Regions from separate parts of the Homo sapiens genome. Here region 1 is linked to region 2. A link means that fine-mapping ties the variant in region 2 to the expression of a gene that starts in the linked region. Tissue or cell type: nasal epithelium. Region 2 holds a variant in brackets; the other region holds the start of a gene. All regions are shown on one strand. Distances are between the middles of the regions.

Region 1 (4,000 bases), 86 kb before region 2:
AAATTGAGTTAAATATTTACATTAAATATTGCAAGGGGTTATTTTACCATTTCACAAGCAAAACACTAAATTTCCCGTAGAAAATGTTTAACAACATGCCCAGATAATTTATAGAAGAAAAAAATGTCAAACAAGCATATTTATAAGTGTTCAGTTGAACCAATATTGAAAAAAGTAAAACAAGATTTTTTAATGTATCAAATTATTTCAGATTATATCTAATTTTCACTGCTGGGTTTCTGGAAAGCAATTTGTCAACATACATTCAAGAGTCTTAAACATGTTCATATCCTAAGGAAATATTTTTAAATGTAGGAAAATAATTTTGTTCAGGATTATTCATTACCACATTTCTCAAAAAGGAAAACACTGGAAATAGAAAAATATTTTATGTTTAAGTAAATTAGGTACCGTTATTTTTAGATCTACAACTGCGAAGACTTAAATAAAACACTTGAGTTACACGAGAAAATGGTCAGACTAACAATGACTGAAAGAAGGACATATAAATGCAGAAGAAACAGACTCGAGAAATGTCAAAATGTCCACAGTGGTTATATCTGGTTGTTGATTTATGCGTAATTGATTTCTCTATACTTGTTTTCATTTTTCACACATAATAAGCCCTGTTATAGCCAGCAAAAAATTACAAAAAAAGTCAAAGTCATCCTTCTTTCAATCAGCCCATTGCCTTGCCCCCTATCCTCCTGACTAGACGGAAGCCCAGTGCATAATTTGTTTTTCAGGCAGAAGAACCCCTTTCATTCCACTGTTACAGATGAATCACCTACTGTGGGAGTAGTCTTGGTACTCACATCAAAGTGTAATTCATCAGTGACTGTGATTGAAAACAGATCCTTTACTCTTTCGTAAGTTAGGAAACAAAATGTGGGGGCAAATGAGGAAAAGAAAACTAAGAGGTTGCTGGGGAGAAAGAAGGCAAATGTCACCTGCTTCATCATTCTTTTTAGAGCTCTCAATGTGTACCTTCAGTATTGCTCAGACTTTTTTTTAATGTGTAGCAGTGTTGCTATGGTAACTGAAAGCTACATCTTCTTCCATAAAAGCTTTATTGCCTTCCCTAGTGGGAAACAGGCAACAAAAAAAGAGAGCTCCAAGTTTCTGGGAACTGAGTCTTTATAAGGAAATATATTTTGTTGTGTTTTGCACACTGTTTCAGGTTCTTCTTTAGGTCAAGGTCACCAGAAAGGGTGAGAGAAATATATTTCTGATGCGGGCTCTTCCAGGAATAGATTAAACCCAGATACCAGACATATTTCAGGATATGAGGGTAAAGCAGGTTTTACATGGCCATGTGAAGGGACTTCTGAAGGACAACCTGAGTATAAAACACGTTTTATTATCATGATTATCAAAAAGTATGTGTCAGCCTCTGTGACCATTCATGACTAGTCAGGGCGCTGGGTAAGACAGAAAGGTTCAAGCTCAGCTCACTCGGTACTCAGTCAAAGGCAGCCTTAGTGAGCACATACAACCACATCAAGGACAGTCACACAACATGAATACGGAGGACAAACTGGCATGCCATTTGGTCTCACTGTTTCCATGCGTCCACAGCTCATTTCTAACTTTGTGCTTTGTGTATTTGCTTGTCTTGTTTACCTGTCAATAAGGCCTTCTCTATTTTTTTTAAGTCCCAGTCTTCCTTAAAGACCCAGTTATGAAGCTCCTCCCCTTTGAGAGATTGCCTCCTTTTAAACCTTATTATATGCAGTTAGCATGAGCTTTTAGCATTTATGTTTTTCCCCAGGCATTCAATGATCGTATGATCATTGAAGTGTTTTATAGATAATCATATGTAGGTTTCTGATCCTTCCTAGATAAATGCTATATTAAAGATGGAAGGTTTGGAGAACCTCCACCTCTCATCGGTTTTTAAAGAAAATGGCCTGTGGTGCTCTGAAAGAGGCAGTTAGTTGGAAATTCCAACTGCCTGTCCTTTAGATTTTCTAAGCATGCTTCTGTACTTGGTAGCTGCTGATTGGCTGTTACCAAAGGTGACTAGAGTGCTAAGCCAGTCAACAGGGAAAACTTGGCTCCTGACTTTGGGTCTTTCTTCTCAGTCTATATGGAAGAAAACTGAGAAAAAATATAAAAAAGAAGAACACAACTAGTTGCGCATCTCCTAAAGAGGTAATTACAGTAAAAAATATTAAAATAAGGACCCTGCTGGAGTATGAATTTATAATGTGATCACTATTCCATAATAATGGAGTAACTATAAATGAACCAACTGGGGGAGGAAATAGCTTCCTTCAATGGGGCAATTCCCAATGTTTATTTAGTGCCAGAGAAGAGAAAATGCCCAGATACATGACTTGTATCCAGTAATTATGTAAAACTTATAATAATTACAAAGGAATGATAACTGGGGGTAATTTAACTGCTAAGTAGGTCAGTAGGGGAGTGTGATGAGGAAAAAGAAGTTGCTGCAGTGTATGGAGATATGGAATTCAGAAGTAATACTTGTCAAGTGCTTATTCTGTATAGAATATGTTAGATGTTTTAAGGTATTTTTCATTTAATTCTCACAACAACACTGTGAAGTGCCTGTTATCCCCATTTTACTGAATAGAATATGAACTCCAAGAAGTTAAATAGCTTGCTAAAAATCAAATATTTCGATGGACAGACTTCGTCTTAGGCTAAAGTCTATGTTTTTACTCTAACTATGAGCTGAAAGTTGAAAGAAGATAGTATCAAATAAGGAAAAGTTGTAATATTGAAGGGAAAATAAGAAGAATGAGACTGGAACTATGCCCCAAAGAATTAAAGAAACCAGTAGGTAGCAGAAATTCTTGAGCTTGCAGGATGGCAGATAAGAAAGCTTGCAGAACAAGCTTGCTGACATTAAAACCAGAATTTCCACCACGTGCTTCATACTAACTCTCTCGAGTTTGCACAGGTGACCCATGAAGAGGCATAAAGATTCTAATAATGGTGTTGTATCATTTAATTTGAATGTTTAGCAAAGTGATATAAGATTTTTCTGGTAAAGGGACTATTTTCAGAGTTTAACTGTGATAATGTCTCCACTTAATGTTAAATTCGTTCTTACACCAAAAATATACTTGAGCATTGCACCATGCCGACAGAATTTTAATCTACCATTTGTTTCCTCTTACCTTGTGAAAACAAGTTGTTTTCTCAGATGATTTTTAAAAATGCACTAAAAACCTTCAGTTCTCCCCTGTTAATGTGATAAGAATGAATTCAAAAAAATCAAACTGTTTGAGCTTTCTATTGTCAATTAAATGTATTTAATAAGCAAGTCAGTTTTGATGAAGGAAAAACACCAGTTACATTTAATTTACTCAGCAGTTGTCAGGAACTGCACAAAGTTCTGAGATTTTATTCCACTTAGAGTTGGCAAATTAGTATGTTTCTGTTTTCTTGGATGCTGGCAAAAGACACAAGACTCCTAGGTCAGAGACGAAGGACTTTATTACTAATAGCAAAAGCAGTAGCCAGAGTGTCCACAGGTTGCTCACTCCAGTACCTCCTGTCCCCCAAGTTCCTTAGAGGTGAAATTCATCATGGATGCTGTGTTAGTTTTCTAGGGCTGCCATAACAAAGGCCCATACACTGGGTGGCTTAAACAACAGAAATTTATTTTCTCACAGTTCTGGAGGCTAGAAATCTGAGATCAAGGTGTCTGTAGGGTTAATTCCTTCTGAGGGCCATGAGGAAGGAACTGTTCATGCGTCTCTCCTGAGTTTATAGGTGGCTGGCTGTCTTCTTCCTGTGTCTTCCCTTCATCTTCCCTCTGAATGTCTTCCCTCTGTGTCTTCACTTCACCCTGCCTATGTCCAAATTTCCTCTTCTCTGAGGACACCAGTCCTATTGGATGAGGGCCCACCCTAATGACTTCATTTTCACTTCATCACCTGTTTAAAAATCCTATCTCCAAACATGATTGCCTTCTGAGGTAAGGGTGGTTAGGATTTCAACTTCAGAATTTTGAGGGTAGAAAATTGAG
Region 2 (4,000 bases):
GTAGCTCCCATAATCCCCATGTGTTGTGGGAGGTACCTGGTAGGAGGTAATTTAATCATGGGGGCAGGCCTTTCCCGTGCTGTTCTGGTGATAGTGAATAAGTCTCACAAGATCTGATGGTTTTATAAAAGGAGTTCCCCTGCATAAGCTCTCTTGCCTGCTACCATGTAAGATGTGACTTTGCTCCTCATTTGCTTTCAGCCATGATTGTAAGGCCTCCCCCAGCCATGTGGAACTGTGAGTCAATTAAATCTCTTTCCTTTATAAATTACCCAGTCTCAGGTATGTCTTTATTAGCAGCATGCAAACAGGCTAATATACTTGGAGAGGTAAAGAGGGCACACAGTACCAAAGTCCTTTTGACCTGAAGAGATTTACAAATTCCTGCAAACTTAGACTTTGAATTTGGTGGACTAATGAAGAGTTATGGCCCTGAGTCTACCCAGGTAGTGAGAATATAGATGGTGTGCCCCACCATACACCAGAACCCCTGAGGGCTCTACCCTTACGATAAAGATTAATCAGAGGTAAATCCATACACACTCACACATATCCCCAAGGAATACAACAAAGTCGTCTTGTTAAGTGAGTAGGAAAAGAAAAAGAGAGAAAAAAACCTGTCTGAGAGGTTATGGCCATTGGAAGGCCCCTGTGAGATTTGCAGCCCTGATTTGCATTGTCTGGGATTACAGGTGCCCACCACCACACCCAGCTAATTTTTGTATTTTTAGTAGAGATGAGGTTTCACCATGTTGGCCAGGCTGGTGTCCACCTCCTGACCTTAGGTGATCTGCCCGCCTCAGCCTCCCAAAGTGTTGGGATTGCAGGCATGAGCCACTGCTCCCAGCCATTCATGATTTTTTAAACAAACATTTATTAAAGCATGAATAGAATGTAACTTCTTGATTAAGAGTATCTAGGGGGGAAAGAAGCTATAGCAAATATCCAATCATATTTTCTAATAACACACCAAAAGCTTTTGCTATGTCATCTACCACTGCCTCTATTCATCATTGTATTGGAGGGCTGAATTAGTCTAGACAGGCAAGAACAATATATTAAAAGTGTGAGATTGGAGAGGAAGGAGCCCAGCTATTCCTGTAACAGATTATCTAATTGTGGAGATAGACAACCTCAGGCTCGTGTAGCTGAAGCAGAGTAAGCATTGCAGAAAGTCATAGGAGATAAGGTCAGAGAGGGACTGGAATTCATACCACGGTGGCCCTTGGAGGGCATTGCAAGGATTTTGACTCTTACTGAGAGAGAGGTTGAAGCCATGGAGAGTTTTGATGAGGAGAGTGGATGAAGTGACTTAACATTTTGAAAGTGTTACTTTGGATGCTTTTTTGAGAACAGACTGAAGGGAGCTATGGGCAGAATCACAGAGACCAATTCGGAGGCACAAGAGAGATGACAGTGGCTTGTACAGGGTGATAGTGGTGACAGAGGTGAGAAGTGGATGGAGTCTACATATATCATGAGGCTAGAGTCAATAGGATTTCTGATGGATTCGATGCAGGGTATGAGAGAGAGGAATTAAGAATGACATTGAGGGGAGGAGCCAAGATGGCCGAATAGGAACAGCTCCGGTCTACAGCTCCCAGCGTGAGCGACACAGAAGACGGGTGATTTCTGCATTTCCATCTGAGGTACCGGGTTCATCTCACTAGGGAGTGCCAGACAGTGGGCGCAGGCCAGTTGGTGCGCGCACCGTGC[G/A]CGAGCCGAAGTAGGGCGAGGCATTGCCTCACCTGGGAAGCGCAAGGGGTCAGGGAGTTCCCTTTCCGAGTCAAAGAAAGGGGTGACGGACGCACCTGGAAAATCGGGTCACTCCCACCCGAATATTGCGCTTTTCAGACCGGCTTAAAAAATGGCGCACCACGAGACTATATCCCACACCTGGCTCGGAGGGTCCTACGCCCACGGAATCTCGCTGATGGCTAGCACAGCAGTCTGAGATCAAACTGCAAGGCAGCAGCGAGGCTGGGGGAGGGGCGCCCACCATTGCCCAGGCTTGCTTAGGTAAACAAAGCAGCCGGGAAGCTCGAACTGGGTGGAGCCCACCACAGCTCAAGGAGGTCTGCCTGCCTCTGTAGGCTCCACCTCTGGGGGCAGGGCACAGACAAACAAAAAGACAGCAGTAACCTCTGCAGACTTAAATGTCCCTGTCTGACAGCTTTGAAGAGAGCAGTGGTTCTCCCAGCACGCAGCTGGAGATCTGAGAACCGGCAGACTGCCTCCTCAAGTGGGTCCCTGACCCCTGACCCCCGAGCAGCCTAACTGGGAGGCACCCCCCAGCAGGGGCACACTGACACCTCACACGGCAGGGTATTCCAACAGACCTGCAGCTGAGGGTCCTGTCTGTTAGAAGGAAAACTAACAAACAGAAAGGACATCCACACCAAAAACCCATCTGTACATCACCATCATCAAAGACCAAAAGTAGATAAAACCACAAAGATGGGGAAAAAACAGAACAGAAAAACTGGAAACTCTAAAACGCAGAGCATCTCTCCTCCTCCAAAGGAACGCAGTTCCTCACCAGCAACGGAACAAAGCTGGATGGAGAATGACTTTGACGAGCTGAGAGAAGGCTTCAGACGATCAAATTACTCTGAGCTACGGGAGGACATTCAAACCAAAGGCAAAGAAGTTGACAACTTTGAAAAAAATTTAGAAGAATGTATAACTAGAATAACCAATACAGAGAAGTGCTTAAAGGAGCTGATGGAGCTGAAAACCAAGGCTCGAGAACTACGTGAAGAATGCAGAAGCCTCAGGAGCTGATGCGATCAACTGGAAGAAAGGGTATCAGCAATGGAAGATGAAATGAATGAAATGAAGCGAGAAGGGAAGTTTAGAGAAAAAAGAATAAAAAGAAATGAGCAAAGCCTCCAAGAAATATGGGACTATGTGAAAAGACCAAATCTACGTCTGATTGGTGTACCTGAAAGTGATGGGGAGAATGGAACCAAGTTGGAAAACACTCTGCAGGATATTATCCAGGAGAACTTCCCCAATCTAGCAAGGCAGGCCAACATTCAGATTCAGGAAATACAGAGAATGCCACAAAGATACTCCTCGAGAAGAGCAACCCTAAGACACATAATTGTCAGATTCACCAAAGTTGAAATGAAGGAAAAAATGTTAAGGGCAGCCAGAGAGAAAGGTCGGGTTACCCTCAAAGGGAAGCCCATCAGACTAACAGCGGATCTCTCAGCAGAAACCCTACAAGCCAGAAGAGAGTGGGGGCCAATATTCAACATTCTTAAAGAAAAGAATTTTCAACCCAGAATTTCATATCCAGCCAAACTAAGTTTCATAAGTGAAGGAGAAATAAAATACTTTACAGACAAGCAAATGCTGAGAGATTTTGTCATCACCAGGCCTGCCCTACAAGAGCTCCTGAAGGAAGCGCTAAACATGGAAAGGAACAACCGGTACCAGCCGCTGCAAAATCATGCCAAAATGTAAAGACCATCGAGACTAGGAAGAAACTGCATCAACTAATGAGCAAAATCACCAGCTAACATCATAATAACAGGATCAAATTCACACATAACAATATTAACTTTAAATGTAAATGGACTAAATTCTCCAATTAAAAGACACAGACTGGCAAATTGGATAAAGAGTCAAGACCCATCAGTGTGCTGTATTCAGGAAACCCATCTCACGTGCAGAGACACACATAGGCTCAAAATAAAAAGATGGAGGAAGATCTACCAAGCAAATGGAAAACAAAAAAAGGCAAGGGTTGCAATCCTAGTCTCTGATAAAACAGACTTTAAACCAACAAGGATCAAAAGAGACAAAGAAGGCCATTACATAATGGTAAAGGGATCAATTCAACAAGAAGAGCTAATTATCCTAAATATATATGCACCCAATACAGGAGCACCCAGATTCATAAAGCAAGTCCTGAGTGACCTACAAAGAGACTTAGACTCCCACACATTAATAATGGGAGACTTTAACACCCCACCGTCAACATTAGACAGAT

Evidence for each region. PIP is the estimated chance that this variant, and not a neighbour inherited with it, causes the effect. A credible set is the group of variants that fine-mapping cannot tell apart.
Region 1: CATSPERB starts here. The variant in region 2 is the best candidate, but not a certain one, in a credible set for the expression of CATSPERB in nasal epithelium (TOPMed, PIP 0.52).

The regions. Positions count from the first base shown.
Region 1 is chr14:91,730,084-91,734,083 of GRCh38, reverse strand. CATSPERB (catsper channel auxiliary subunit beta) reads left to right here and starts at 1,998. Exons shown (of 27, transcript NM_024764.4): 1 at 1,998-2,154.
Region 2 is chr14:91,643,786-91,647,785 of GRCh38, reverse strand. All of the region lies in intron 15 of CATSPERB (catsper channel auxiliary subunit beta), which reads left to right. Among named protein-coding and RNA genes, the nearest start is that of CATSPERB, 86 kb to the left of the region's middle. RefSeq lists enhancers at 1,239-1,831, 1,832-2,426. The variant G/A (reference allele first, on the strand shown) is at 1,717.